4 separate regions of the Homo sapiens genome follow, and regions 1, 2 and 3 are each linked to region 4. The links come from fine-mapping of genetic effects on gene expression. A gene starts in region 4. Each other region holds a variant in brackets. All regions are shown on one strand. Distances are between the middles of the regions.

Evidence for each region.
Region 1: its variant is fine-mapped to the expression of MAN2A2 in whole blood (INTERVAL, PIP above 0.99).
Region 2: its variant is fine-mapped to the expression of MAN2A2 in whole blood (TOPMed, PIP above 0.99).
Region 3: its variant is fine-mapped to the expression of MAN2A2 in whole blood (GTEx, PIP above 0.99).

Annotation. Positions count from the first base shown.
Region 1 is chr15:90,946,978-90,955,213 of GRCh38, forward strand. UNC45A (unc-45 myosin chaperone A) reads left to right here. Exons shown (of 20, transcript NM_018671.5): 11 at 819-913; 12 at 1,165-1,306; 13 at 1,677-1,817; 14 at 2,339-2,466; 15 at 2,677-2,743; 16 at 3,177-3,290; 17 at 3,523-3,638; 18 at 5,952-6,069; 19 at 6,178-6,333; 20 at 6,482-7,116. The coding sequence ends at 6,739. RCCD1-AS1 (RCCD1 and UNC45A antisense RNA 1) reads right to left here and starts at 7,516. Exons shown (of 2, transcript NR_170325.1): 1 at 7,358-7,516; 2 at 5,261-6,228. RCCD1 (RCC1 domain containing 1) reads left to right here and starts at 7,907. Exons shown (of 8, transcript NM_001017919.2): 1 at 7,907-7,971. RefSeq lists enhancers at 6,264-6,764, 7,589-8,143, 7,944-8,053. The variant GT/G (reference allele first, on the strand shown) is at 4,033.
Region 2 is chr15:90,923,763-90,931,998 of GRCh38, forward strand. It overlaps HDDC3 (HD domain containing 3), which reads right to left. Exons shown (of 4, transcript NM_001286451.2): 3 at 7,942-8,182; 4 at 6,206-7,643. The coding sequence ends at 7,513. It also overlaps a transcript of UNC45A not described here. Among named protein-coding and RNA genes, the nearest start is that of HDDC3, 4.7 kb to the right of the region's middle. RefSeq lists enhancers at 6,095-6,324, 7,955-8,184. The variant A/G (reference allele first, on the strand shown) is at 4,506.
Region 3 is chr15:90,937,134-90,943,479 of GRCh38, forward strand. It overlaps UNC45A (unc-45 myosin chaperone A), which reads left to right. Exons shown (of 20, transcript NM_018671.5): 5 at 2,598-2,690; 6 at 3,173-3,340; 7 at 5,304-5,472; 8 at 5,779-5,949. Among named protein-coding and RNA genes, the nearest start is that of UNC45A, 5.0 kb to the left of the region's middle. The variant G/C (reference allele first, on the strand shown) is at 3,498.
Region 4 is chr15:90,899,108-90,907,343 of GRCh38, forward strand. It overlaps MAN2A2 (mannosidase alpha class 2A member 2), which reads left to right and starts at 4,195. Exons shown (of 23, transcript NM_006122.4): 1 at 4,195-4,325; 2 at 5,083-5,232; 3 at 6,144-6,401; 4 at 6,472-6,616; 5 at 6,738-6,909; 6 at 7,263-7,390; 7 at 7,633-7,806; 8 at 8,202-8,236. The coding sequence starts at 5,101. RefSeq lists enhancers at 3,236-3,285, 5,126-5,185 and silencers at 3,456-3,725, 3,746-4,175.

The sequences.
Region 1 (8,236 bases), 48 kb after region 4:
TTGCAGGGTGTGGCCCCAGCACACTCCAGATGAAAATAAGGAATACTGTAATGCCAAAAAAATTAGCTAGGCTTGGTGGTGCATGCCTATAGGTCCAGCTACTTGGGAGGCTGAGGCAGGAGGATCACTTGAGCTCAGGAGGTTGAGGCTGTGGTGAGTCACGCATGTCACTGCACTCCTGCCTGGGCAACACAGCAAGACCCTCTCTAAAATAAATGGATGAATGAACGAGATTCTGGGCTTTCTTGTGGTGAGAGACATCGGCATGGCTCCTCCCTCCATGGGGCTTAAGACTGGGCCTGCAGGGGTCATGCAGTGTTCCTGGGAGCTGGTGGTTTGGGGGTTTGGGGACTACCTGGCCCTCCATGAGCCTGTTGTGGCTGTGCACCCTGTGGAAGCTGGTCTTCCTCCCTGGGGCACTCAGTCCTGGATTTCTCCATCCCATAAGGATTTGGCTGTGGCTGAAGCACCTGTCCTCTCCCCACATGCCTCTCAACTCCACCTGCAGAGGGCTTCTTTGTGCGACATGGAAGGAAACAGAGCCATTCTCAGTGTGGCCTGGGAAGGGGTGGGGCCCACGACTGTCCAGCGGCCAGCGCATCAGTGTCTGCAGATGCTGTGTCATGCGGCCACCCCAGTAGCTGATTTTCTTGCCACATGCTCTAGGTGGTGGTCTGGAGGGAGAGGGTGCTGATTTGTCTGTGTAGCTTCCAGGGGGCCATGGCAGAGTGCCAGGGAGGGAGTCCAAGCCAGGTGTGGAGGAGCTCAGCTCCTGCCTCCTTCCCCAGAGGCCAACTGGTCTTGCCCTCTTCCTCCAGGGACTCTGTAAGCTCGGTTCGGCTGGAGGGACTGACTTCAGCATGAAGCAGTTTGCTGAAGGCTCCACTCTCAAACTGGCTAAGCAGTGTCGAAAGTGAGTCATCTGGCCTTGCTGTGGTTCCCCACCTGTGGGGTAGATCTCAAGACACAGGGGTCTGGGTGGGGGTTGGGGCCTCCTCCGTCCTGCTCTCTGGCTCAGGCAGGGGCTGCAGTCTGGATCCTGGTACGTGAACTGCTTCTGTACATTGAGGGGATGCCCAAACCCTTGGTTTTTCCCCCTTGGCCTTGGTGTACCCCTCCGTACCCCCAATCCTGAGGGTCGTCCACTATCCTGCGTGTCCCCAGGTGGCTGTGCAATGACCAGATCGACGCAGGCACTCGGCGCTGGGCAGTGGAGGGCCTGGCTTACCTGACCTTTGATGCCGACGTGAAGGAAGAGTTTGTGGAGGATGCGGCTGCTCTGAAAGCTCTGTTCCAGCTCAGCAGGGTAGCTCTGTGGTTCCTGCCGTCAGCCTGGGGACACTGTCTAGGATTAGACCTTACCAGGCTTTCTCGGCAGGGCTTGGCCAATGGGGTCTTTTGACCCCAGGGAAGAGGGCTGGTGGCTGAGTGGCTGCTCTGTGTAGTGTGGGCATGTTGGCCAGCACCAGTGGTGTTAGCAAGGACGTTCTTCTTGGAGGAGCTGGGGAGGTCAAGTTTGTAAGCTCCCAAAGTCTGGGGCCTGGGAGTTTCCCGAATTCATCCTGTACCCAAGGGTCCCAGCTGAGGGTGGAATTGGGGGCCTGGGCCTGGGCAGCATTTATCTGAGTACTGCTCTGCCCCGGGATGCCCATGTGAATTCCTCTGTGTCCTGGCAGTTGGAGGAGAGGTCAGTGCTCTTTGCGGTGGCCTCAGCGCTGGTGAACTGCACCAACAGCTATGACTACGAGGAGCCCGACCCCAAGATGGTGGAGCTGGCCAAGTATGCCAAGCAGCATGTGCCCGAGCAGCACCCCAAGGTGAGGGGCCGCCAGAGGGGCTAGAGGGTTCCCCACCATGGGGACAGCTAACCCAGGGCATCCACAGCAGAACAACCTCCCTTTTTTTTTTTTTTTTTTTTTGAGATGGAGTCTCACTGTCTCCCAGGCTGGAGTGCAGTGATGCGATCTCGGCTCACTGCAAGCTCCGCCTCCCGGGTTCATGCCATTCTCCTGCCTCAGCCTCCCGAGTAGCTGGGACTACAGGTGCCCGCCACCATGCCTGGCTAATTTTTTGTATTTTTAGTGGAGACAGTGTTTCACCGTGTTAGCCAGGATGATCTCGATCTCCTGACCTCGTGATCCGCCTGCCTCAGCCTCCCAAAGTGCTGGGATTACAGGTGTGAGCCACCGTGCCCAGCCAACAGCCTCCCTTTTAAGCCAGTTTGTTTCCTTTTGTCTGGCTGTTTTATTTCCCAGTTCCTCAATTACTGCTGTGAGAAGGGTCCCCCTTTCTCTGTGAGTCAGCCTAGGCCCCTCTCCTAAGCTGCCTCCTCCCCCAGGACAAGCCAAGCTTCGTGCGGGCTCGGGTGAAGAAGCTGCTGGCAGCGGGTGTGGTGTCGGCCATGGTGTGCATGGTGAAGACGGAGAGCCCTGTGCTGACCAGTTCCTGCAGAGAGCTGCTCTCCAGGTGAGCCAGCCTTGGTAGGAGCCAACCTTTCCCAACTCCTGAGCCTCAGGGCTGCAGATGTGGCTCCAGAGGGTGCAGGTTCCAGTGCTGTGGGCCTCTTAGAGCGACGGGGGCTGCCTGCGTGGCTGCCGTCTTTGCTGAGCCTAGGAGTGCAGCGTCTGCCTGCCAGAGTCCCAGAGCTGCCTGCCCACCACCGCCTTCTCCCCACAGGGTCTTCTTGGCTTTAGTGGAAGAGGTAGAGGACCGAGGCACTGTGGTTGCCCAGGGAGGCGGCAGGGTAAGCTGGTTTACACACCCCTTCCTGATGGCTGAGCCATCAGCCTATAAAACATGACTCAGCAGCTGCCACGCCAGAGCTGGGTGTTAGATATGGAACAGAAAAACATTAATGGCCAGAGGAACACCGTCCCGCTGAGAGAGTGACGCGGAAGCAGGCAAGCTCCTTGGCCCCTCCACACTGGTGCCTGTGAAGGTCCTAGGCTCTACTGTTCCTTTGTCTCATTTACCCCCATGGCCCTGGTGCTCAGCACAATCCATGTCCAGCCCTTATTAGGTGTTTCAGGAAGTGTTTGGATGCAGAGGGTCTGCACAGGGAGTCAAGCCTGGGGAGAGGGAGGAAGGTGAGGGTGGCACGGTCAGGGCTGGGGAGCCCGATGGTCGGGGTCTTACTCCCAGGGATGTCCTGAGCAGTGACGGGCTTGTTCCTACAGGCGCTGATCCCGCTGGCCCTGGAAGGCACGGACGTGGGGCAGACAAAGGCAGCCCAGGCCCTTGCCAAGCTCACCATCACCTCCAACCCGGAGATGACCTTCCCTGGCGAGCGGGTACGTGTCTTCCTGCCCCGGCCTTTCCACTCCCTCTGTCCCTGATGGCCTGTGGGCTGGGCTGTAGCTCCCCTTTGGGACCAGCAGGAAGTTTCAGCTTTGTCAAGGCCTGGGGCAGGGAGGACAGCCTGAGACAGCAGTACTCTCTTGGGGGTGGGCTTCTCCCTGCAGGGTTGGTGGGGCTTGTGGGGGCTGCGGCAAGTACCCCTGACAGGTGGGGTGCACATTGCAGATCTATGAGGTGGTCCGGCCCCTCGTCTCCCTGTTGCACCTCAACTGCTCAGGCCTGCAGAACTTCGAGGCGCTCATGGCCCTAACAAACCTGGCTGGGATCAGCGAGAGGCTCCGGTAAGGTCCCTTGGGATTGCGGGGCCTGGACCAGGCATCGGGATTCGGAATATCCCCCACAGCAGTTTACACATTGGGAAACACTCCTTGGTCATGGGCTTCTGTGAGCCTCACAGTGACTGCTCCGCATCATTAGAGAGGAGGCGACAGGCCAAGAGGCAGCACGGCACGGCAGACTCTAGAGTCAGACTGCCTCGCTTCCCTGATTGCAAATGGGCAACCTCAAGCAAGTTACTTAACTGCTCTGTCTCAGTTTCTCCCTCTGTGAAATGGGATGATTATAGTACCTACCTCATGGCATAGTGATGAGGAGAATAAAATGAGAAAATACACCTAAAAGTACTTACTACATGGGTACCTGGCCCCTAGCATTGTGCCATATCAGTATATTTTA[GT/G]TTTTTTTTTTCTTTGAGACGGAGTCTTGCTCTGTCACCCAGCCTAGAGGGCAGTGGCATGATCTCAGCTCACCGCAACCTCTGCCTCCCAGGTTCAAGCGATTCTCCTGCCTCAGCCTCCTGAGTAGCTGGGATTATAGGCACGTGCTACCGCGCCTGGCTAATTTTTGTATTTTTGTAGAGATGGCGCTTTACCATGTTGGTCAGGCTGGTCTAGATCTCCTGACCTCGTGATCCGCCCACCTCAGCCTCCCAAAGTGCTGGGATTACAGGTGTGAGCCACTGCAGCTGGCCAGCATGTTTTAGTTTTATTACTAACTGTGACTTTGAACATATTACTCATTACTTAGCCCGTTTCCTATTCTGCAAAACAGTAGTGATGATGATCACACTTGCACCTTTAGTATAGGGCCATGGTGAGAATTAAGTAAGATGATCCAGGTGCCTGGTCAGGGTAAATACTCAAATGAGGCCGGGCGTGGTGGCTCACACCTGTAATCCTGGCAATTTGGGAGGATGAGGCAGGAGGATCACTGGAGCCCAGAAGTTCAGGCCAGCCTGAGCAGTGTAGCAATACCTCGTCCCTATTTAAAAAAGAAATTAAAGAGAATATCAGGAAGAATAGCTAATGCATGCTGGGCTTAATACCTGGGTGATGGGATGATCTGTGCGGTAAACCACAACGGCACATGGTTACCTGTGTAACAAACCTGCACGTCCTGCACATGTACCCCTGAACTTAACAGTTGGAAAAAAAATTTGCAAGGTGTGGTGGCGTGCACCTGTAGTCCCAGCTACTCGAGAGGCTGAGGCAGGAGGATCACTTGAGCCTGGGGGGGTCAAGGCTACAGCAGTGAGCTGTGATCATGCCACTTTACTCCAGCCTAGGTGACAGAGTGAGATCCTGCCTCAAAAAAACACAGAAACAAAAACCCTCAAATGTTAGGTGTTAGCCTCACCATCACGACCACCCTGGTCTTCTACATCCTAATTTTGAGCATTTCCCACAATCCTATGCTATTTCCTAGGCCTGGTTAGAAGGCTAAGAAGCACTGTAGTTCATACCTGGTGCAAGAGGGTCCTTGGACATTGCCAAGGGAAATCCTCAGCCCAGGACTTGATTGCATGAGGGTGTGGGTGCAGGGGTGGAGCAGATGTAGAAACTCTGATGATGCTGCCGGTGTTAGTCTGTTCTTGCATTGCTGTAAAGGAATACCTGAGACTGGGTAATTTATAAAGAAAAGAGATTTAATTGCTTCCTGGCTCTACAGGCTGTGTAAGCATGGCATTGGCATTTGCTCAGCTTCTGGGGAGGCCTCAGAGAGCTTTTACTCATAGTAGAAGGCAAAGCAGGAGCAGGCACATCACATGGTGAAAGTAGGAGCAAGAGACAGTCGGGGGAGGTGCCACACACTTTTTTTTTTTTTGAAATGGAGTCTCCCTCTGTTGCCCAGGCTGGAGTGCAGTGGCGCAATCTTGGCTCACTGCAACCTTCACCTCCTGGGTTCAATCGCTTCTCCTGCCTCAGCCTCCCTGAGTAGCTGGGACTACAGGCGCGCACCAGCATACCCAGCTAATTTTTTTTTGTCTTTTTAGTAGAGACAAGGTTTCACCATGTTGGCCAGGCTGGTCTCGAACTCTTGACCTCAAGTCATCTGCCTGCCTCGGCCTTCCAGAGTGCTGGGATTACAGGCGTGAGCCTCCACGCCCGGCCGAGATGCCACGCACTTTTAAATAACCAGATCTCACGAGAACTTACTATCACGAGGATAGCACCAAGCCATGAGGGACCCATCCCATGACCCAGTCACCTCCCACCAGGCCCTACCTCCAACATTGGGGATTATAGTTCAACATGAGGGTTAGAAGGGAAAACATCCAAACCGTATCCCTGCTGCTTCCTCCTGTGGCCCTGCAGGCAGAAGATCCTGAAGGAGAAGGCTGTGCCCATGATAGAAGGCTACATGTTTGAGGAGCATGAGATGATCCGCCGGGCAGCCACGGAGTGCATGTGTAACTTGGCCATGAGCAAGGAGGTGAGGGTTGGTCTGGGTGCTCATGACAGGCGGGGATGCAGAGGTACCTGTGCCCTGGCTGGGCTTTACACCCAACTGACTTGGTCCACTCCTCACATCTGGCCACAGGTGCAGGACCTCTTCGAAGCCCAGGGCAATGACCGACTGAAGCTGCTGGTGCTGTACAGTGGAGAGGATGATGAGCTGCTACAGCGGGCAGCTGCCGGGGGCTTGGCCATGCTTACCTCCATGCGGCCCACGCTCTGCAGCCGCATTCCCCAAGTGGTCAGTGCCTCTTCTCAGTGGGGGAGGAGGGACGGACCAGGAACTCCCAGCAGCAGCTGAAGGGGGCAGTCCTAGGGTGTGTGGGTGTGTCCCTTGCCAAGGTTGAGCCTGTTGCCCAGGGGTCATATCTACCCTGTTTTTCTCACAGACCACACACTGGCTGGAGATCCTGCAGGCCCTGCTTCTGAGCTCCAACCAGGAGCTGCAGCACCGGGGTGCTGTGGTGGTGCTGAACATGGTGGAGGCCTCGAGGGAGATTGCCAGCACCCTGATGGAGAGTGAGATGATGGAGATCTTGTCAGTGCTAGCTAAGGGTGACCACAGCCCTGTCACAAGGGCTGCTGCAGCCTGCCTGGACAAAGCAGTGGAATATGGGCTTATCCAACCCAACCAAGATGGAGAGTGAGGGGGTTGTCCCTGGGCCCAAGGCTCATGCACACGCTACCTATTGTGGCACGGAGAGTAAGGACGGAAGCAGCTTTGGCTGGTGGTGGCTGGCATGCCCAATACTCTTGCCCATCCTCGCTTGCTGCCCTAGGATGTCCTCTGTTCTGAGTCAGCGGCCACGTTCAGTCACACAGCCCTGCTTGGCCAGCACTGCCTGCAGCCTCACTCAGAGGGGCCCTTTTTCTGTACTACTGTAGTCAGCTGGGAATGGGGAAGGTGCATCCCAACACAGCCTGTGGATCCTGGGGCATCTGGAAGGGCGCACACATCAGCAGCCTCACCAGCTGTGAGCCTGCTATCAGGCCTGCCCCTCCAATAAAAGTGTGTAGAACTCCACTGTGTGCCCTGTCCTTGGGCAGGGAGGGCTGCTGTGAGTGGGAGTCTCTGAGTGGGTGAGTGTGGGTGAGTATGGGTGTGAGCTGGGCGTGGGTGAGTGTGCAACGGAGCTTCACAGTGGCAGACCCACCTCCATGGAAGGAATCCAATGGATTCCCCAACCAGGGCCCACTGAGTTGCTTCTTAATCCTACTGGAGGGACAAAGGGTAAGCCTAGGAAGCTAATCAATAAGAAACTCACCAGGTGCGGTGCCTCAAGCTTGTAATCCCAGCGCTTTGGGAGGCTGAGGCAGGTGGATCACTTGAAGTCAGGGGTTCGAGACCAGCCTGGGCAACAAGCAAAACTCTTTCTCTATAAAAATACCAAAAAAAAAAAAAAAAAAAAAAAAAGAGCAGAGTGTGGCGGCATGCACCTGTAATCCCAGCTACTCGGTAGGCGAAGGTTGCAGTGAGCCCAGAGCGCAGCCTCCCAAAGTGTCGCCTGGGCGACACAGCGAGACCCTATCTCAAAAAATATTAAACTATCCCAAGAAATAAGTCGTTTAGGGTAGAGACTCCCATATGCTGGGCCTTCAGTACGTTTGTCTTTATATTGGGAGTCCTCTGTGGCCTCCGCTGAGGGCGCTGGGGCGGGGGTTGGGGTTGGTGGCCAGCTGAGCCTGGTTGAAGGGCGGCTTGGGCCCCGCCCACCACCCCAGCACGTTCGAGGAGGGCTAAGCCCAGCGTGAGGCTCGTTGGCTCGACAGAGGCACGTGACGGGTCCTGAGCCAATCCGTGGAAGGTAAAAGCTGCTTCCTGTTGGGGCATGAGTCCGGCGCGTGTCGGGTTTTGAGCTGCCGCGGTCCCGGGACTGAGGTGGGTGGCGGGGTCCGCCCGTCTTGGGCGTCACTCCTCGCCAAACCTTTAGCTCAAGTCTTAATGAATGTCCTCTCTGTGGTTCTAATCCGAGCTCCAGCCCCACGGGTTCCTGCAGGGGCGGGACCACCTGGCCCAACCTCTGCCTTGGTCCAACGCCCCCGGTTTCCTCCAGGGCCTTGGTCCAACGCCCCTCGGAGGTTTCAGCCCATTTCACAGACCGGGCCGCAGGGCCCCGGCGTAGGCCTCGGGACCGGAGAGGCCC
Region 2 (8,236 bases), 25 kb after region 4:
TACTTGGAACCATCCAGCTTTCATGAAGAAGGAAGGGCTGTATGGCCAGTTGGAACCACAGAGAGAAAGGCTCCAGTTGAACCACTTAAGAGCTGGTCCTCCCATGCAGGGCGAGCCAGCCCAGACAGTGTCCTCATATGGCTTGCCTCAGGGTAGGTAAAACATAAAACCTCGACCACTTGTGCAGAGAGAGCAGCATCTTTAATTTGACCTGAACCTGACTTGCTTACCTTGCTCTGTCACTGGGGCATCTGTGCACTCACGGAGGGGGAAAATCAGTCTAGGATGGTGGGAATGAGGCTTACCATCCACAATAGAGATCTCTGAACAAAATCTTTGTTCTTCCCTAACAAAAAAGTGTGTGAAGGACAAACACTTCAAGGGCTCATTCTCATTCTCATTCTCATAGTGAGAAGAGATAAGACAGAGACCAGATCCTTCGCAACAACCCTCAATTTTACTTAGGGTCAGTGAGAAATCAATTCAGATGGTAACAGTACCCAGGACCAGCTGGGTCTGCAGTTGGCTCCTGACTCCTGACATTCTGGCTCCTGACTTTGGACCTCCCTAGTTGAGAATAAACCTGAACTAAAAATCCATGTAGTTAGGTAGTCTGGGCACAGGAAACCAAAGTGGGGTTGGAGATGCGGACTCTGTCATTCTGAATGTGACAGAGTTGAAGATTTGAGACACAGCATTGAGTGTGGAGACCTAGAGAAGGCCCCTCAGTGGAGTAGGAAGGACTGGGGTTTCCCAGTCAGCATGCCTCCCGCAAGTTTGAATATTTGTGTCCCTCTCAAATTCATACTGAAACTTAACCTCCAATGCAGCATATTAAGAGGTGGGGCCTTTAGAAGGTGATTAGGTCATGAGAGCTTCTCCCTCGTGAATAGGATTAAGGCCCTAATGAAAGAGGCTTCACACAGCCTGCCTTTTTTACTGTGTGAGGATGCAGTGACCACCTTGGAAGCAAAAAGCAGCCCTCGCTAGACACCGAACCTGCCAGCACCTTCATCTTGGACTTCCTGCTTCTAGAACTGTGAGAAAACGAATTTCTGTTCTTTATAAATTACCCAGTCTCAGGTATTTTTGTCATAACAGCACAGACTAACATACCTAGAGACTTGCATTCCAACTAGAGGCGCAAGCACACCTATAATTCTGCCCTCTCAACTCCTAATGCCAGAGATTGCTAAATAAATACTAAAAATGTAAAAACAGGCCGGGCACAGCCCAGCACTTTGGGAGGCCGAGGCAGGCAGATCACCTGAGGTCAGGAGTTCCAGACCAGCCAGACCACCATGGCGAAACCCCATCTCTACTAAAAAATACAAAAATTAGCCGGGTGTGGTGGTGGGCGCCTGTAATCCCAGCTACTTGGGAGGCTGAGGCACGAGAATCACTTGAACCCAGGAGGCAGAGGTTGCAGTGAGCTGAGATCTTGCCATTGCACTCCAGCCTGGGCAACAGAGCAAGACTCCATCTCAAAAAAAAAAAAAAAAAAAAAAAAAAGAAAGCAAAAACTGTCAAACTCAAAATAAAGGAAATCTTCTTTGACAAAGAATGGAGAGAATAATACAGCCATTAGCAGAGGCTGAGGCTATACAGCTTGAGAGAAGTAGAGACTAGTTCAGGATGGTAGGTGCTGGGACTTCAAAGTCCACGTGGGACAGGTAACCAAGTGTAACCTAGGAACGTCAAGGGACCAGAACCAGACTCTGAGAGGTACACAGGCAGGAAAAATGTAAGTTGCAAACAAAAACAGGATGACATGCAAGCAATCTAAAAAAATACTTTAAAAAATATATATGTGCAATCACCAAAGAGCTAAAGATATTCAGTCTTGCAATGAGAAACTGACTGAAAAGAAGCAAATAAGATTTTACAAATTATACATGCTGGAAATGTAAAAATACAATTATTGAAATATACTCTATGTATGGTATAAGCCCTAGACTGGAGGCAGATGACATAAAAATTTAGCAGGTCTGGAAAACAACTGAGGAATCACCCAGAATGCACCACAGTGATAAAAGAAATATAAAAAAGAAGCTAAGACAGATGGAGGATAGACTGAGAAGCTTTGGCATAATGTTTCATAGCAGTTTTAGAAAAAAAGACTAGTGAGAATACAGGGATGAGAAAACAAAGACGGTGAATTTTTCAGAACTGAAGAAAGATGTGAGATCTCAGAATCAAAGAGCTCATTAAGTTCCAAGAAAGGTACATTTAAAAAAAAAGGCCAGGCCGGGTGCGGTGGCTCATGCCTGTAATCCCAGCACTTTGGGAGGCCGAGGCGGGTGGAACATGAGGTCAGGAGATCGAGACCATCCTGGCTAACATGGTGAGATCCCGTCACTACTAAAAAAATACAAAAAAATTAGCTGGGCCAGGTGGCAGGCGCCTGTAGTCCCAGCTACTCAGGAGGCTGAGGCAGGAGAATGGCGAGAACCCAGGAGGCAGAGGTTGCAGTGAGCCGAGATCGCACCACTGCACTCCAGCCTGGGTGACAGAGCAAGACTCCATCTCAAAAAAAATAGATAGCTGGGCGCGGTGGCTCACCCCTGTAATCCCAGCACTTTGGGAGGCCGAGGCGGGCGGATCATGGGGTCAGGAGATCGAGACCATCCTGGCTAACATGGTGAAACCTTGTCTCTACTAAAAGTACAAAAAATTAGCCGGGCATGGTGGCGGGCGCCTGTAGTCTCAGCTACTTGGGAGGCTGAGGCAGGAGAATGGCATGAACCCGGAGGCAGAGGTTTTAGTGAGCCGAGATCGCGCCACTGCACTCCAGCCTGGGCGACAGAGTGAGACTCCGTCTCAAAACAACAACAACAACAACAAACAAACAAATAAATAAATAAACAGGCCAGGTGCAGTGGCTCATGTCTATAATCCCAGTACTTTGGGAGGCCAACGTGGGCAGATCACTTGAGGTCAGGAGTTTGAGACTAGCCTGGCCAACGTGGTGAAACCCTGTCTCTACTAAAAATACAAAAAAACCCAAAAACCAGAAAAATCAAAATGTAGCGGGGCATGCTGGTGTGTGCCTATAGCCTGTAATCCCAGCTACTTGGAAGGCTGAGGCAGAAGAATCGCTTGAACCTGGGAGATGGAGGTTGCAAATAGCCAAGATCATGCCACTGCACTTCATCCTGAGCGACAGAGCACGACTCCGTCTCAAAAAAATTAAAACAATTTAAAAAACCTCGTGTAGATATATTGCAAATTACGTAAGATAAAACCTAAAGGCCAGGCACGGTGGCTCACGCCTGTAATTCCAGCACTTTGGGAGGCCAAGGTGGGTGGATCACCTGAGGTCAGGAGTTTGAGATCGGCCTGGCCCACATGGCAAAACCCTGTCTGTACTAAAAATACAAAAATTAGCTGGGCTGGTGGCATGCGCCTGTAGTCAAAGCTACTCAGGAGGCTGAGGCAGAAGAATAGCTTAAACCAGGGAGGTGGAGGTTGCAGTTAGCTGAGATCATGCCACTGCACTCCAGCCTTGGCAATAGAGTGAGTGGGATTCACTCTCAAAAGAGAAAGGCAAATATAAGAACTTATTGAGAAACTGCAGGAATGAATATAACCTGTTGTACAACCATGGTTTAACTGTAGATTTTTAGCCTAGCTTTTTTTTTTTTTTTTTTTTTTTTGAGACGGAGTCTAGCTCTGTCGCCCAAGCTGGAGTGCAGTGGCGTGATCTCGGCTCACTGCAACCTCTGCCTCCCAGGTTCAAGTGATTCTCCTGCCTCAGCCTCCCAAGTAGCTGGGACTAAAGGCGCCCGCCACCACGCCTGGCTAATTTTTTGTAGTTTTAGTAGAGACAGGGTTTCACCGTGTTAGCCAGGATGGTCTTGATCTCCTGACCTCATGATCCACCCGCCTCGGCCTCCCAAAGTGTTGGGATTACAGGCGTGAGCCACCACACTGGCCTTTTTTTTTTTTTTTTTTTTTGAGACGGAGTCTTGCTCTGTCTCCCAGGCTGGAGTGCAGTGGCATGACCTTGGCTCACTGCAACCTCCGCCTCCTGGGTTCAAGTGATTCTCCTGCCTCAGCCTCCCGAGTAGCTGGGACTACAGGTGCCCGCCACCATGCCCGGCTAATTTTTTTGTATTTTTAGTAGAGACGGGGTTTCACCATGTTAGCCAGGATGGTCTCGATCTCCTGACTTCGTGATCCACCCGCCTGGGCCTCCCAAATTGCTGGGATTACAGGCGTGAGCCTCTGCACCCAGCCTGCCTAGTGTGTTTCTTTGGAACTTATCAAAATGTCTCTGGAGGCCGGGCACGATGGCTTCATGCCTGTAATCCCAGCACTTTGGGAGGCCAAGGCAGGCGGATAACTTGAGGTCAGGAGTTTGAGACCAGCCTGGCCAGCATGGTGAAACCCTGTCTCTACTAGAAATACAAAAATTAGCCGGGCGTGGTGGCACACATCTGTAATCCCAGCTACTAGGGAGGCTGTGGCATAAGAATCGCTTGAACCCAGGAGGCAGAGGTTGC[A/G]GTGAGCCGAGATTGCGCCACTGTACTCCAGCCTGGGTGACAGAGCGAGAATCCATCTTAAAAAAAAAAAAAGGCTCTGGAACATTTCATTTCCTGTTTTGTTACTGACCTGTGACTCTGTAAAAGTCTACTTTCGCAATTTGGATTAATAATTTTATGAATGCAAATTGGAGATGCTGTTCAAAAAAAAAAAAATAGAAAAGTCTTACAAAGGAAAGACAATCACAGTGATAGCAGACATCTAGTTAGCTACAGTAGACACCTGGAGTCCATTCAAACCTAGAGAAAACTCAGCCTTGAATTTGCTATCAGCTACACCATTCAAGAGCACGGGGGAAATGAAGACATTTTCAGACATGCAAAGACTCAACAGTTTGCAATGTACAAAACTTTAGTGGAAGAAAGTAGGTGTACTTAAGCAAAAAGAGAATTTGTCTAGGGGCATAAACTAATGAGAGGGAGGGTACACCTAAATACTGGCTATAAATGTAATACTAGTTTATAGTTTAAAAAGAGGCAGGAACTAAAATTCTAGAAAGCAATATTGTGAAGAGTTATTCAAGGCTGGGCACAGTGGCTCACGCCTGTAATCCCAGCACTTTGGGAGGCTGAGGTGGGCAGATCACCTGAGGTCAGGAGTTCGAGACCAGTGTGGCCAACTTAGTGGAACGCCATCTCTACTAAAAAATAAAAAATAAAAAAATCCAAAAACAGGTACTAAGAGGACAGACCTTGCATCAAATGGTGCTAGGAAAACTGGACATCCACAAGCAAAACCATACATCATATATTTTGTATATGGTGTATATACAAAAAAATTACACCATATACAAAAATTAACCCAAAATGTTCTTGCCACAAAAACAACAAAAAATTGGGTAACTACGTGAAATGATGGATGTGTTAATTTGCTTCACTATAGTAACCTTTTTACTACCTGTATGTAGCCTCATAACATCATGTATACCTTATACCAAATTAAATTGATTTAAAAAGAAATTTAACCCAAAATGGATCAAAAACTTTACTTGTAAGAGCTAAAACGATAACTTTGGGAGGCCAAGGCGGGTGGATCACCTGAAGTCAGGAGTTAAAGACCAGCCTGGGCAGCAAGGATAAATCCCGTCACTACTAAAAATACAACAATTAGCCATGCGTGGTGGCGCACGCCTGTTATCCCAGCTACTCGGGAGACTGAGGCAGGAGAATAGCTTGAACCCGGGAAGCGGAGGTTATGGTGAGCAGAGATGGCACCATTGCACTCCAGCCTGGGCAACAAGAGTGAAACTCCGTCTCAAAAAAAAAAGCTAAAACGAAAGCTCCTAGAAGAAAACAGGAAAAGCTTCATGGCATTAGATTTGGCAACGATTTCTTAGATATGACACTAAAAACACAGGCAACAAAATATATAAAGTGGACTACAACAAAGTCATCTTTTCTTAAAAAAATCTCGTTATCTTACTCCCGCAAAACTATTTAAAAAAATTAAGTTCAAAGTTCTCCAAAATGTACCATACCCTGGGGATTACTCTGAACTTTGTTCATTTGTTTTCTTTTAATTCGGCTTTTTTGGTTGCCTTTCACCTACTTTTTCGCAGAGCCCTCCGCTGGGGCCTTCACTTGGGCAAACAACTATCGTAGTCGAACAGCTTTGACCTAACAATTTCCTCGTACCCAAGATGATCGCTTTTCCAGACAACTTAATAAACTTTGGCTTTAATGGATGACTGGATGCAGAATAAAATACATAAAAATAAACCTCAGCTGCTCAGCAACGACTGAAAAACCACCACCGGGCAATCCCTCCCCATGGCCACCGAGCAAAGTTCCACCGCCTCCCCTACGCCGACCGCCGGGCTCCCGGGGTCGGACAGCCCCGGGCCACTTCCGGGCCTTCCCGGAAGTCCCTGTCACTTAACAACCGAAGTAACCCGCAATGCGGAAGGGCGAGGGGATTGCGAGTCACCGAGTTTCCCGCGCGGCTTGAGGTACTGGGGAACCGGAATCCCCCACCGGCCCAATCATGTTGCTGCTGGGGTCTCTCCGGTGCCCAGCAGTGGTTGTCAGTAAGCGGGCGGCACTCCCTTCCGATACGTCTTTTCTTTTTTCATTTTTGAGACGGAGTCTCGCTGTGTCACCCAAGCTGGAGTGCAGTGGCGCGATCTCGGCTCAGTACAAACTCCGCCTCCCGGGTTCAAGCGAGTCTCCTGCCTCAGCCTCCTGAGTAGCTGGGATTACAGGCGCGAGCCACTGCGCCCGGCTAATTTTTTTTTGTATTTTTAGTAGAGACGGGGCCTCGCCATGCTGGCCAGGCTGGTCTTGAACTCCTGACCTCAAGTGATCCGCCCGCCTCGGTCTCCCAGAGTGCTGGGATTACAGGCGAGAGACACCGCGCCTGGCCCCCTTCCAACTTTCTTAACGGGAAAGGCTGCTACCATTTCTTGAGCACCTATGTGTCAGGCTCCATCAGGCACGTCACAGTCTAACCTGATAATTACACAACCCATGTCACTGACAAGGAAGCCAGGTTCGGAGGGGTTGAGGCCCGCAACCTGAGGGAGGTGACTCCGGGACACACAATTAGTCCTGCTTTGCTGAAGGAAAGATATGCAGCCCACCAGTCGGAGGCTGGAGAAGGAGCAGCAGCAGCTTAAACCTTAACCCAGAGTTATTTTTATTTTCCAGAACGTGTTAGGAACTAGTACTTAAATAATCTCAAGTCCCTGAGGGGCCAGAGATCCCACCATGCAAAATAGCAAACAGACCCAAGACTTGGGGAGAGGCGGTGAGTGCATCAGAAATGGATGGGTACATCTGATTCCCACCACGCGGGGCTCAGCTTAGTTAGCAGGAGACCTTCAGACTGAGAAAAAATGCAAGTCTTTTTTTGGCCTCTAATATCTGGGAAGGATGGAGGGAGCTCAGGAGACACAGAAAAGATGGCGTATGAATCCTGTCCGGCCTGAACGAGGCTGGAGTTGTGCCTCTGGATAGCTTCAAGCACTGATCAGATTGTCAGCCCCCGCTGCTTGAACAGATGCTTTAGAGCCTCTTCCAGTTGCCGGTTTGTTCCCTGAAGCCCCTTCACCACCTGCGCTGCCCACTCGAAGTATTCCTGGACTCGATGTTCTGACCATCCTGCATAAGAGTCGACAGAAACTTGCTAGCGTGATGTCAAGGAAAGCACTGCCTTTTCCCCACTTCCTGGCAAGCTTGGTTCAAGGCCATGAGTTCCTGATGGAATGAGCTGTCCTGAAAACTTCCCCTTGGCCCAGCTATTGTATTTTTACTGTATGAAAGAAGATCAAAGAGTGGTCCAGTAGGATTAATTTGGGAATTAAGAATGCCCAGGGTTTTTCAGGGGAACTGACCAACATGTGTCTTCAGAAGGCGGCATCCCCCTCCCTTTTCCCTTACAGCCCATACGAAAGCGTACCCTCTGGGGTGCAGCGATTCAGGTCCCTCAGATTGTACAGCTTGTCTGCCAGCTTCACCAGTTTGGCCCCGGGGCTACTGTGGGGCGCTTGCTCCACCTGCAGCCTCTTTCTCTCCAGCTTGGGCAGAGTCTTGTCATCTGTTACCTCCTCCACCAGGCGCCGCACTTGTGCCCCAAAGTGTAGCTCCACCTCATCCAGGGTGGTGTCTGTGTCCTCCACCGTGTCATGGAGCAGGGCCGCCTGGGGACAAGTTCCCACTCAGCCCTGAGATGTCAGCCAAGGGTTGCCCATTGC
Region 3 (6,346 bases), 37 kb after region 4:
CCAGGAGTTTGAGACCAGCCTGGGCAACATAGTGAGACCCTGTTGCTACCAAAACCTAAAAAGTTAGCTGGGTGTGGTGGCACACCCTTGTAGTCCCAGCTACCTGTGAGGCTGAGGCAGGAGAGTCCTTTGAGCCCTGGATTTTGCAGTTACAGTGAGCTATGATCGTGCCACTGCACTCCAGCCTGGCTGACAGAGTGAGGCCCTGTCTCTTTCAAAAAAGAAAAGAAGAAGAAAAATATACAATAACACATATAGTATAATATCATTTATGTTAATGATCCCCTACATAGCAAAACAATGCTATATTTTTTCTGTGGGTACACTTGGGTATGTAAATACAAAGGAAAATAATTGTTTTTTTTTTTTTTGAGACGGAGTCTTGCTCTGTCGCCCACACTGGAGTGCAGTGGTGCGAACTTGGCTCACTGCAACCTCTGCCTCCCAGGTTCAAGTGAGTCTCCTGCCTCAGTCCCCCAGGTAGCTGGGACTACAGGGGCCTGCCACCACGCCCGGCTAATTTTTTGTATTTTTAGTAGAGATGCGGTTTCACTGTGTTGGCCAGGATGGTCTGGAGCTCCTGACCTTGTGATCTGCCTGCCTCGGCCTCCCAAAGTGCTGGGATTACATGTGTGAGCCACTGCACCCAGCCGAAAATATTTTATTTTTTAAATTTATTTTTATTTTTATTTATTTATGTATTTTGAGACGGGGTCTCACTCTGTCACCCATGCTGGAGTACAACCTCTTCCTCCCGGGCTCAAGCAGTCCTCCCACTTCAGCCTCCCAAGTAGCTGGGACAAATGCATGTCACCACGCTCGCCTAATTTTTATATTTTTTGTAGAGACAGGGTTTTACTGTGTTGCCCAGGTGGCTGGTCTTGAACTCCTAGGCTCAAGGGATCTACTCACCTCAGCCTCCCAACTGGCTGGGATAACAGGCGTGAGCCATGGCACTGGGCCAAATATGCATTTTTGTTTCTTTATTTTTTCAGGAAAATATTTTAAAAGATATACATCAAAATGATAACACGGTGACCCCTGGGGAAAGGAATGGGATTGAGAGGGCTTTCCAAAGGAGACTGCATCACCTGTTCATATTTTTTTAATAAAGAGAAATTGTGTAAAATACGTATATTTTTAAATTAGGAGAAAAGAATCTAAAGACCATTATGAGCTACAACCAAGCTCAAATTCGCCAGATAATTTGACGTTAAAATGCTGACACAGTGGAAGCAGATAACATGATGGCAGACACCTCACTGAAATGTTGAAGCCTGGGAAAGCAAATAGGTTTCCTCTCTCAATGCCAACTCTGATTGGCAGTGGCTGCCCAGAGTCCTATGTTGAGAAGAATTAGGAAGCAGATTGCCTGAGCCAAGCAGGGGAACGTGCCATGACTGGTTAGTCATGGCTGCCATGGATGCAAGAGAGGAAGGCGGGTGGTCCACATGCTAGGCTTGTGCCACCATCTATGCCCAGGACTCTGGGGGGTGGGGGAGTAGGCCTAGGATGATCTTCCCCATTCAGATTATTTATTTATTTATTTATTTGTTTGTTTTGAGACAGTCTTATCCTGTCACCCAGGCTGGAGTGCAGTGGATCTCTGCTGACTGCAACCTCCACCTCCCAGATTCAAGCGATTCTCCTGCTTCAGCCTCCCGAGTAGCTGGGATTACAGGCACCCGCCACCACACCTGGCTAATTTTTATATTTTTAGTAGAGACGGGGTTTCACCATGTTGGCCAGGCTGGTCTCAAACTCCTGACCTCAGGTGATCTGCCCACCTCGGCCTCCCAAAGTGTTGGGATTACAGGCGTGAGCCACCGTGCCTGGCTTCAGATTTTATTTATTTATTTTTTTGAGACAGAGTTTCACAGTTATTGCCCAGGTTAGAGTGCAGTGGCGTGATCTCGGCTCACTGCAACTTCCGCATCTTGGGTTCAAGTGATTCTCCTGCCTCAGCCTCCCGAGTAGCTGGGATTACCGGCATCTGCCACCACGCCCGGCTAATTTTTTGTATTTTTAGTAGAGATGGGGTTTCACCTTGTTGGCCAGGCTAGTCTTGAACTCCTGACCTCAGGTGATCCACCTGCCTTGGCCTCCTAAAGTTTTGGGATTACAGGCGGGAGCCACTGCGCCCAGCTCAGATTATTTTTAAAACAGTGAAAAGAGAATTCTGGAGCTAAAGGAAGTGTTAGCAACTACCTCACGATCTGCCAGCTCCCTGGCAGGAGGTATAAATGCTGAGTTCAGTGCCATGGGAAGCCCATTCACGCTGCCACAATGTAGATGGCACCACTGGGAGTGGGTTGCCTCGTAGCTGACAGGATACCTCCCCTCCGAAAAGGCACTCCAGCATCGGCGCAGCCCCTGCTGCCCAAGCAGGAAATAGCTCAGAAAGAAAAACAGGTGCGGGAAATTTAGGAGGCACTGCCAGGCAAGTCTCTTCCTGCCCAGGGTAGCTAGGTGCTAGCCCTGAGCCTGGACATCTTTACTGTGCCTCCCAGAGTGAGGAGCTGGAGACAAATGAATAGGGAGTGTGATGTCTCTGGCCAAGAGCCGTGATTTGTTCCATGCTTTGTTGGTTTGTCTAGGTGCGATACATGTCCTCGACGGATGCCAAAGTGGAACAGATGTTTCAGATACTGTTGGACCCAGAAGAGAAGGGCACTGAGAAAAAGCAAAAGGTATAGGCCCTGGGCTGAGTCAGTGAGTGAGCTCCCACTAGAGCCACCCATCCATAGGCCCCCGAAGCCACTGCTGCCTTGCTCTGCCGCTCCTCCAATCGTGCAGCTGGGCTCACGGGGCCTGGATGGGAGCTCTGAGGGTCTGGGGCTTTAGCGTGAACCAAGGAAAGAGAACCAGTGTTCACAGAGTACCTTGTTGGCCACGCCCTGTGCCAGGAACTGGGTGTACAGAGGTAACTGAGGCACTGTCCCAGCCCCTCAGGCTCTGCTGGGGACTCATTTGCTCTAACCATCAATCCCGAGAGAAGGCTCTTCCCTCTATTTACAGAGGAAGCTAAACTTCAAAGAGGTTATTTTTTGGCCGTGGTCACTCAACTGTGAAGTGGAAGCAGAGAGGTCCAGGGCTCGGGGCCCCTGCTCACCAGTGCTGCATCCTATGCCGTGTGCAGTGTCAACATTATAATGTGCTTCCTTTGACGCAGGCTTCTCAGAACCTGGTGGTGCTGGCCAGGGAGGATGCTGGAGCGGAGAAGATCTTCCGGAGTAATGGGGTTCAGCTCTTGCAACGTTTACTGGACATGGGAGAGACTGACCTCATGCTGGCGGCTCTGCGTACGCTGGTTGGCATTTGCTCTGAGCATCAGTCACGGGTAGGTGGAGTGGAGAGGCTGGTTACAGCTTCAGTCCCTTTGTCTGTCTGTCCATCCATTCCTCCATCCACCCATCTGTCCATCCGCCCATCTGCCCGTCCATCCATCCATCCACTCTTCCACCCTCTACCCCTTACCTTATTCTAAAAAGAACTTA[G/C]GTAGGTTATGGTGCCTCACACCTGTAATCCCAGCACTTTGGGGGGCTGAGGCAGGTGGATCACTTGAGGTCAGGAGTTCAAGACCAGCCTGGCCAACAAGGCGAAACCCTGTCTCTACTAAAAATAAAAAAATTAGCCGGGCATGGTAGTGCACGCCTGTAATCCCAGCTACTCAGGAGGCTGAGGCACGAGACTTGCTTGAACCCAGGAGGTGGAGGTTGTGGTGAGCTGAGATCGCGCCACTGCACTCCAGCCTGGGTGACAGAGCGAGACTATCTCAGAAACAAAACAAAACAAAACAACAAAAAAAGAAAAGGCAGAGTACAAGGAGATACATGTAACAAGAGAGAAAAAATAAAAATGGCGTGAAAAAGACCAACATAAATTAGGATGAAGTGGGGTAGAAAGAGCAAAAACAGCCTTGGGGTACCCCAAGCACTTGCTTTGTAGGGGGCTTACAAGTGTGAGCCCCAGCTTTCCTGCAGCCAACTCACAAAAACACATTGGTCACTGACTCCTTCAATGTCCATATGGCACAAGCAAGCTCATGGCCCAGAATGTGCCTGGCCACCACAGCATCTACCATCGAGACAGTGACCGGACACGTAGGGCTTGATCCCGACATGATTCTCAGCATGGATGGTGGTGGCCCAGCATGGACAGTGCAGCAATAACAGTCCTGCTCCTGGGCCAGTGTGGTGAAGTCCATGCCCCCAGCTCTTACCTGAGCTGGCTTGCTCCAGGGGAGAGGGGACCAAAGACTAGGCCCTTGGTTGCTTTTAGAGGAGCCCACAATTCCTAGATAGGGGTGAAACTGTGAAATAGTCAATGAAATCTCTTTAGGCTAAGCTTGGGCTGCATTCTGGGTCTCCCAAGGCTAAGACTGTTAAAAGCATGTGCATTCTGTTCCCTCCTGCCTTCCGGTCCATTCCAGTTCACAGTCTTGGCCAAGGACACTTAGCTGCTAAGTGGAAGCAGTCAGGATTTGGGCTCAGTGGACCAAGCAGGCCTTCTAGGGTTCTCCAGCTTAGAAACAGGGTGGAGAGGGCCCGGCGCGGTGGCTCATGCCTGTAATCCCAGCACTTTGGAAGGCCGAGGCGGGCAGATCACGAGGTCAGGAGATTGAGACAATCCTGGCTAACACGGTGAAACCCCGTCTCTACTAAAAATACAAAAAATTAGCCGGGTGCGGTGGCGGGCGCCTGTAATCCCAGTTACTCAGGAGGCTGAGGCAGGGAAATGGCGTGAACCTGGGAGGTGGAGCTTGCAGTGAGCCCAGATCGCGCTACTGCACTCCAGCCTGGGCGACAGAGCAAGACTCCGTCTCAAAAAAAAAAAAAAAAAAGAAAAAAGAAAGAAACTGGGTGGAGAGGTCTCACGGGCCCATTCCGTGTACGTGACGTCCACATCCCCAGGGTGTGGAAAGAACCTCAGGGTTTAGACTGGGGAAGAACTAGACCATTAAGCCTGGTGGTCAGGTAGCTTCGTCTAGGTATAGGTCTTTTTCTTGGGGAGGCATGAGCTAAGGCAGCTGCTCCCAGGGCTGCAGTATACTATGTCTTCTCTGGCACCAAGGAGAGGTAGTAGGGCATTGCCGTGTAATGTCTCCTTTAGGAAATCTTTCTAACAAAATTATCCTGCCATTACCCTGGGTCATGCCATCCATTCTGTGTTGTTTTCACCTGGAGCTGGGCCTTCCACCCAATTCTCTCCTTCTGGCCGTATCCTCTAACTCACAGTTAGGGATCTCTGTGGCTGCCCTTCAACAACTGGAAGCTTCCTTCTGTTTACCTCTCCCACCCCAGACAGTGGCAACCCTGAGCATACTGGGAACTCGGCGAGTAGTCTCCATCCTGGGCGTGGAAAGCCAGGCTGTGTCCCTGGCTGCCTGCCACCTGCTGCAGGTTATGTTTGATGCCCTCAAGGAAGGTGTCAAAAAAGGCTTCCGAGGCAAAGAAGGTGCCATCATTGTGGGTGAGTGGAAGCAGGTCTGGGGTCTTTTGGACGTTACTGTCATGGAAGGGATGGGGCTGAGCCAGCCAGGCCAGTTTTTTGGGGACCAGACTTGCAGCTGCAGGTTGTTTGGAATACGGTTTGGTGACATTATTTTACTCTAGATTCTCAGCAACCAAGGTGCCTCAGGACAAAGCTGGAGCTCAGTCTGGAGCCTGGGATGCGGATCCCCCCTTCCCTGTGTCTCCCTGGTTTGTTGGAGAAGTTGAAGGGTCAAACTGGGCTGGGCTGCTGTGGAGCCCACTGATGTCTTCTTGTTGTTGCCAGATCCTGCCCGGGAGCTGAAGGTCCTCATCAGTAACCTCTTAGATCTGCTGACAGAGGTGGGGGTCTCTGGCCAAGGCCGAGACAATGCCCTGACCCTCCTGATTAAAGCGGTGCCCCGGAAGTCTCTCAAGGACCCCAACAACAGCCTCACCCTCTGGGTCATCGACCAAGGTAGGTGATATAGTTCACAAAAACTTGCTTCAGCAGCTGAAGTTTGTTTATTCTTAGGAGTAATAAGAAAAGTTGTGAGTGGGGCCAGGCATGGTGGATGACACACTTTGAGAGGCAGGGGGTCACTTGAAGCCGGGAGTTTGAGATCAGCCTGGGCAACATAGCGAGACCCTGTCTCTATGAAAAATTAAAAAAAATTAGCTGGGCATGGTGGTGTGCATCGGCAGTCCTAGCTACTCCAGAGGCTGAGGTGGGAGAATTACTTAACCCTGGGAAGTCAAGTCTTCAGTGAGCTGTGATTGTACCACTGCACTACAGACTGGGCAACAGAGGGAGACTGTCTCAAAAAAAAAAAAAAAAAAAAGAAAGAAAAGTTGTGATTATCTCCAGCCACGTG
Region 4 (8,236 bases):
ACAAAAATTAGATGGGTGTGGTGGCACATGCCTGTAGTCCCAGCTACTCAGGAGGCCAAGGCATGAGAATCACTTGAACCCAGGAGGCGGAGGTTGCAGTAAACTGAGATCGCACCACTGCACTCCAGCTTGGGTGACAGCAAGACTGTCTCAAAAAAAAAAAAAAAAAGTCATACTGAGTAAAGAAGCCAGACATGAAAAGAGTTCATACTTATGATTCTATTTTATGAAGTTCAAGAACAGGCAAAACTAAGTTACAGAGAAGTCAAAGCAGTGCTTATGTCTGGAGGGTCCTGATGGAAAGGCGTGTGAAGATGGAGGGGAAAAGGTTCACCATGGTGCCCTTACAACCATGTGTGTCTCTACATGGGCCACATAGGCAAGGCTGGACCACAGTCTGACAGCCACTATGGTGTGCTTAGGGACTGCTTGGCCACTTAACACGGGAACATTTTGGGTAGATGGGAATGTCCTGCATTTTGATCTGGGTGGTGATTATGCTTGTGTATGTATTTATCAAAACCCATCAAGCTGTACACTTAAGATTTGTGCCACACAGTGTAAACTGTACCTAAATTTTTAAAAAAGAACCACCAGACAACAAACAAGAATTCTTGAAAATTGAGATTATCAGGCTGGGCGCGGTGGCTCATGCCTGTAATCCCAGCACTTTGGGAGGCTGAGGTGGGCAGATCACCTGAGGTTGGGAGTTCGAGACGAGTCCAACCAACATGGAGAAACCCTATCCCTACTAAAAATACCAAATTAGCCAGGCGTGGTGGCAGATGCCTGTAATCCCAGCTACTCAGGAGGCTGAGGCAAGAGAATCACTCGAATCCAGAGGCAGAGGTTGTGGTGAGTGGAGATCACGCCATTGCACTCCAGCCTGGGCAACAAGAGCAGAACTCCCTCTCAAAACGAAGGAAAAAAGAAGATTATCACCAAAATGAGGCTGAGCACGGTGGCTCACGCCTGTAATCCCAACACTTTGGGAGGCCGAGGTGGGCAAATCACCTGAGGTCAGGAGTTCAAGACCAGCCTGGCCAACATGGTGAAACCCCATCTCTACTAAAAATACAAAAATTAGCTGGGCATGGTGGTGCGCGCTTCTAATCCCAGCTACTCGGGAGGCTGAAGCACAAGAATCACTTGAACCTGGGAAGCAGAGGTTGCAGTGAGCTGAGATCACGCCACCACTCTTCAGCCTGAGCGACAGAGTGAGACTTTGTCTCAAAAAAAAAAAAAAAAAAAAAAAAATTACCAAAATGGAAAATTCAATAGAAGGGCTGGAAAATAAATCTCCCAGAACACAAGGCAAAATATGAAAAGACAAAGAGGATGATGAGCCCAGTCTAGGTCTAACACCCTAATAACAGGCATTCCAGTGAGTAAACAAACCTGGAAAGCTGTTCCTGATGGTGATAAAAGAAGTGGCAGTCGAGTGCAGTGGCTTATCCCTGTAATCACAGCACTTTGGGAAGCTGAGGCAGGAGGATCAAGGCCAGGAGTTCGAGGCTGCAGTGAACCATGATCACACCACTGCACTCCAGCCTGGGTGACAGACAAGAGCTTGTCAAAAACAATAAAAAAATAAAAAGAGCTGGGCACTATGGCTCATATCTGTAATCCTGGAACTTTGGAAGGCCAAAGTGGGGGGATCGCTTGAGCCCAGGAGTTGGAGAACAGCCTGGGCAACACAGTGAGACCCTCCCACCCACCACAAAAAATAAAAAAATTAGGGCCGGGCACAGTGACTCACGCCTGTAATCCCAGCACTTTGGGAGGCTGAGGCAGGTGGATCACCTGAGGTCAGGAGTTCGAGACCAGCCTGGACAACATGGTAAAACCCCATCTCTACTAAAAACACAAAATTAGCCAGGTATGGTGGCACGTGCCTGTAGTCCCAGCTATTTGGGAGGCTGAGGCAGGAGAATCGCTTGAACCTGGGAGGCGGAGGTTGCAGTGAGCCAAGATCGCGCCATTGCACTCCAGCCTGGGCAACAAGAACGAAACTCCGTCTCAAAAAATAAAAATAAAAAAATTAAAAAATAAAAAAATTAGCTGGGTGTAGTGGCACATACCTGTAAGGCTCAGCTACTCAGGAGGCTGAAGTGGGAGGATGGCTTGAGTCTGGAAGGTCAAAGATGCAGTGAGCTGAGATGGTGCCACTGCACTCCAGCCTGGGAAACAGTGAGATATTGTCTCAAAAAAAAGAAATGGTCGTTAAATAAGAGATAGCATTGATCATTCTCAGCAAACTAACACAGGAACAGAAAACCAAACACCGCATGTTCTCACTAATAAGTGGGAGTTAACAATGAAAACACATGGACACAGAGAGGGGAACATCACACACCGGGGCCTGTCGGGGGTTGGGGGCAAGGTGAGGGAGAGCACCTAATGTATGTGGGGCTTAAAACCTAGATGATGGGTTGATGGGTGCAGCAAACCACCATGGCACATGTATACCTATGTAACAAATCTGCATGTTCTGCACATGTATCCCAGAACTTAAAGGAAAATTTTTAAAAATGAGATGGCATTATATATCTCATTAATCAGCTAAAACATTGTTTAAGCAATATCCAGCAGTTTGTTATTGATGGTGTAAACTGGTACAGTCTTTTGGGGGAGCGATAGTGTCATCAGTCATCTCTGTCCTTATCTTTTGCCCGGGTAACTTCACTGTTGCAAATTCATCATAAAATAACGTCTTAATCTGTTCGGGCTGTTAGGACAAAATACCATAAAGTAGGTAGTTTATCAACAACAGAAATGTATTTTCTCACAGTTCTGGAGGCTGGAAAGTCCATGATAAGGCATAAGCGGATTCAGTGTCGGGTGAGGGCCTGCCTGTGGTGCACAGATAGTGCCTTCTAGCTGTGTTCTCACGTGGTTGAAGGGGCCGACTCTCGGGGTCATTTGATACCGGCACTAATCCCATTCATGAGAGCTCTCCCTTCAAACTCTGTTCACCCCCAAAGGCCCATCTCCTAATACCATCATCACCTTGAGGGATTAGGATTTGAACATGAATTTGGGGGGTCACATTCAGATAATGTTATATATAACTTAAAAAGAACAAAAATGTGGAATTCATGGAGATGTTCATTGCAGTATGGATTACACTGAAAAACTGTAAACAACCTAGATGCCCAGTAAAAGGGAAACAGCCAAGAAAAGTCTGTGTCTTGTTCACTCGCTGGCAGGAAACATAGAGCAGGCACGGAAAGGAAAGGGACTCGAGGAATGCGCTGTACCGACAGGAGGCAGCACCCCTTTGCCCGAGGGGCGCAACGACAGAGACCTAAGGCTACCTGGGCCGGAGCCGGGTGAGGCCGCGGAGAACGCACCCCGCTACGCGTCTGCCGAGACGGAGGCGGGCGTTTCGACCACTGCCCGATCATGCGCTTACTCAAGTAGGATTCCGAAAAAATTCAGTCGCGCGTCCCTCCTGAGGTTCCGCAGCTGGCCAGGCCCGGCCCGGGCTGGTGCGGCTGCGCACTGCAGCCCAGCGGAGCGGGCCCGGGAGGAGCCGGGCGGGGACCGCGGCGGCCAGAGCTCCTGTCAGCTCCGCCGGGCACACGCAGGCCGGGGCGGGCGGCGCGGCTGTCCCCGCCCCGCACGCTGCTGGGCCCGGCAGCTTCAGAGGCTGGCGGACCCGCGCGGGGCCGGCGCAGCGGAGCGCGCCGGCGGCCCGGGGCCCAGCGGGAGCGCGGCAGCGGCGCGCGGAGCAGGGGGCTACGGGTGGGCGGGCGCCCGCCTTCGCCTGCGTCGCTGCCTGCACGCGGGCCGCCGTCCCCGGGCGTGTGAGAGCCGGCAGCTCGGCCGACTGGGCCCGGAGCGGCGCGGAGGCCGGGCGCTGACGGTAACGGGCCGGGTGCGCGCGCGGGAGGGCTCCGGCTGCCCCGACAGAGGCCGGGCTCGGGCGGCGGGAGTGCGAGCGCCACTGCGGCGTCAGAGGGGCCAGGAAGGGACAGGAGGCTGCCTGAGGCCCGTACCTGGCGCCTGTCTCTGCGGTCCCCGGGGCCGACGAAGTCGGAGCGGGTGGGGAGGGAGCCGGGCGGGCGGCCAGAGACCTGGCGGCAGGTGCCTGCCCTCTGTGATCCAACTCTCTCCCCAGCTCCACCCACATTGGCCTAGACCCAGTCTCTAAGGGCTGAAAATATTGCCCGGAAGCTCCCGAGCAGAATCAGATCGCGCTAAGTAGGGCACAACGCAGAGGCGACAAAGCTCCTCGGCCCCAGGGCCCGCGGAGCAGACTCCGGAGCGCGGTCCCGCCCACGCTCGGCTCCGCAGTTAGCGTCCTCCTTCCTCCTGAGCAGGCAAGCGGAGCCCGAGGGCGGTGGCGGCGGGGGGCACGGGTCCCCTGAAGTTGCCTCGCAGCTGAGCACTGGGCCCCGTCTCTCCCTTCCCAGGGGGCCTTCGGCGTCACTGCAGGCTTCCTAGGGGTCCCCTAAGTGCTCTGCAAACCGCGGCTGGAAGTTTCCCACTGCAGTGAACAGTAGAGAAACAGGGAGAACACACAGGGCTTGCTTTATGCTAGAAACACAAGCATCTTTCTTCTTTATTAGAAAGAAACTCATTCTGTGTTTCTGAGAAAGGATCGTGCCAGGCACTGTTTCTGGTGAGTGCCAGTTTGACCCGAAAGGGCACTGAGAAAGGCTTTCCTATCAGTCTCTTTGGGTTCTGGCTAAACTTTTAAATCAAACAAAATAGAGACTAGCTTATTCACCTGAAACTAGAAGCACATGGCCGAGGAGCCTGAACAGGCACCTCCTATCTAGGCAGGGAAGCTGTGTAATCAGGAGCTTGTGTGGTGCGCTCCAGTCGGAGCTGGGACTCTTATCCTGGGCCCGTTTTTCATAGCACCAGCCAAAGGAGAGCGTCCTCTCCACCCTAGCGGCAGAGCTGCTACCAGGACCAGGTGGGCCAGCCTCAGATGTGCTGCTTGTGCTACTTGGAGCCAGGCAAATGGGTGTTCCTTTGGAACAGCCCTCAGGAACTCACTGGGGTATTTGGTGGAAAGACTGCCACGGGCATTTTGCATGTTGGAGCTACAGATGGTGTCCTTCCTGCCAGGTGTGTGTGGAGGCCAGTATGAAGCTGAAAAAGCAGGTGACAGTGTGTGGGGCTGCCATCTTCTGTGTGGCAGTCTTCTCGCTCTACCTCATGCTGGACCGAGTGCAACACGATCCCACCCGACACCAGAATGGTGGGAACTTCCCCCGGGTGAGTCGTGCCTGGTTGCTAATTTCTTTGTATACAAGTCACCTGGGCTCAGGGTATGCACCTCCCACCCCGCCGCCTCCCCTCCCACCCCCCGCTGGAGGGTAATGTCAGTACAGGACAGGAGCCTTCCTTCCCAATAGTCAGGTTTTGTAGAAACCCTCAGCTAAAAACAGTGATGGCGAAAAGAAGGAAGGAAGAAAAAATGTCAATGGCAATGAGTATTGTCACTCTGTTCTCCTGAATTCTTTTCTTTCTTTTTTTTTTTTTTGAGACAGAGTCTCGCTCTGTCGCCCAGCCTTGAGTGCAGTGGCGCGATCTTGGCTCACTGCAACCTCCGCCTCCCAGGTTCAAGCAATTCTCCTGCCTCAGCCTCCCAAGTAGCTGGGACTACAGGAGCCTGCCACCATGCCCGACTAATTTTTGTATTTTTAGTAGAGACGAGACGAGGTATCGCCATGTTGGCCAGGCTGGTCTTGAACTCCTGACCTCAGGTGATCCACCCACCTTGGCCTCCCAAAGTGCTGGGATTACAGGTGTGGGCCACCGCGCCCAGCCCCTCCTGAATTCTTGGCAGACATTGCTAATTGATTGCAGCATTCTTTGCCATTAAGCCCCGCTGAAATCCTCAGCACAGGCAACACCGATTGTTGAGAATAGGTAGGTGAAAGGAAATCTTTGCCATCCCTGAGCTAGAGAGTGATGGTTCTCCCAACCCAAGTGGAGTGTAGTCCTCAGTGGTGATCTGCACAGCTCCCTTTATCTGAACGGTGTCATCTATCCCTCTAGGCTCATGGTCTGGCTTTGACTGATGAGGGAAGAATTGTACTCAGGCCTCAGCTGGTAGACCCCAAGCAGAGACCCTCCCTGTGGCATAAGGAGCTGTGTGTGATTGCTTTCTGGTTTTTTGGCAGAGCCAAATTTCTGTGCTGCAGAACCGCATTGAGCAGCTGGAGCAGCTTTTGGAGGAGAACCATGAGATTATCAGCCATATCAAGGACTCCGTGCTGGAGCTGACAGCCAACGCAGAGGGCCCGCCCGCCATGCTGCCCTACTACACGGTCAATGGCTCCTGGGTGGTGCCACCGGAGCCCCGGCCCAGCTTCTTCTCCATCTCCCCGCAGGACTGCCAGTTTGCTTTGGGGGGCCGGGGTCAGAAGCCAGAGCTGCAGGTAAGAGTCAGAGCTGGCAGGGACGTACAGTGGCCACGACTGGGGTACTGAGCTGCAGTTCACCTGGCAGATGCTCACTGTGTCGGAGGAGCTGCCGTTTGACAACGTGGATGGTGGTGTGTGGAGGCAAGGCTTCGACATCTCCTACGACCCGCACGACTGGGATGCTGAAGACCTGCAGGTGTTTGTGGTGCCCCACTCTCACAATGACCCAGGTGAGGGCCCTGCAGACTCCTGGGAGCTGGAGTGTGGAGTGGGATTTCTGATGGCCAATACAAGGGAGGGACGTCGAAGAAGATGGTGGCATCCTCAGGGGACCCTACATTGGCTCCCTAGGCTGGATCAAGACCTTTGACAAGTACTACACAGAGCAGACCCAACACATCCTCAATAGCATGGTGTCTAAGCTGCAGGAGGACCCCCGGCGGCGCTTCCTCTGGGCAGAGGTCTCCTTCTTCGCCAAGTGGTGGGACAACATCAATGTCCAAAAGAGAGCGGCAGTCCGAAGGCCAGTACCAGGCGGGGAGGCATGGGAGGGCATTGTCTGAGCCCCAGGCTGGGTGGACGGGTCTTACCTTAAGCTATGGGTGCCAAGGTGGCAGGGAGAGGCCCAGAGAGCTGTGGAAGAGATGAGTGATGGTGGAGGGAGGGAAGGCAAAAACAGATAGGTTCCGAGATAAGCGGGGCCAGGATAGCCTGGAGGTTGGCTGTAAGGAAAGGAGGGCAAGTGTGTGTTCTCTTGGTCCTGGGATTGGGAGAACTGGTCCAGTGAGGCCAGTGCACACAGGCCCTGACATTTGCTGGTTGGCAGGACTGGGCAGAGTGTCCTGCTCCGTCCTGAGTGTGAGTCCTTAACTATAGGCTGGTGGGAAACGGGCAGCTGGAGATTGCGACAGGAGGCTGGGTGATGCCAGATGAGGCCAATTCCCACTACTTTGCATTGATTGACCAGCTCATCGAAGGACACCAGTGGCTGGAGAGAAATCTTGGTAAGTCCAGGCCCAGGCATGGGGGTCTGCCCCCTGGGCTGTAAGGCACAGGCAGGGGCTGTAAGGCACAGGGATCGGCAGGGGGTGGTTCCTTTCTAGGCAGATCCCACCATGTGGGCCTGGTGTGATATCATCTCTCCACTCACTACCAGGACAAGAGCTGGGGTCCCAGCACCTGGAAGGCCGGGGGGCCAGCCCCTGAGGTGTGTTCAGGGCCTCTCTGGCTTCCATGCCCTGCCCAGGTGCAACCCCCCGCTCTGGCTGGGCAGTGGACCCCTTTGGATACAGCTCCACCATGCCTTACCTGCTGCGCCGTGCCAACCTCACCAGCATGCTGATTCAGAGAGTGCACTATGCCATCAAGAAGCACTTTGCTGCCACCCACAGCCTAGAGTTCATGTGGAGGCAGACATGGGGTAAGGCCGGGTAGGGTAGAGGGGGTTACTGCAGCATAGTCTTCACTGGGGAACAGCAGGGATATCAGAACTAAGACCCCCACTGTTCTTCAGAGCAGACCTGCAGGCACTGGTGTGGACTGCCAGAAATGGTCGCACCCTCTGGTTAGGGGAGGGCCATATTGACCTCTGGCCTCTACAGGGCCTGCTGTCCCAAGGGCTTCAGCGTGCCCTGTGTGCCCGTCCCCTGAGGGAGCCCCTCATGTCTTTCTCCCTGGCCTACACACTCTCTCCAGCCCTAGGTCCAGTTACAGCCTCGCGGTCTATCAGGGCTGCCTTTAGCCTGAACAGATCCTTGCCCCCCTGGCGTCCAGAGGCTGCCTGCTGGTGGTGACCACGTGGTGTGTCTCCTGCAGACTCGGACTCCAGCACAGACATCTTCTGTCACATG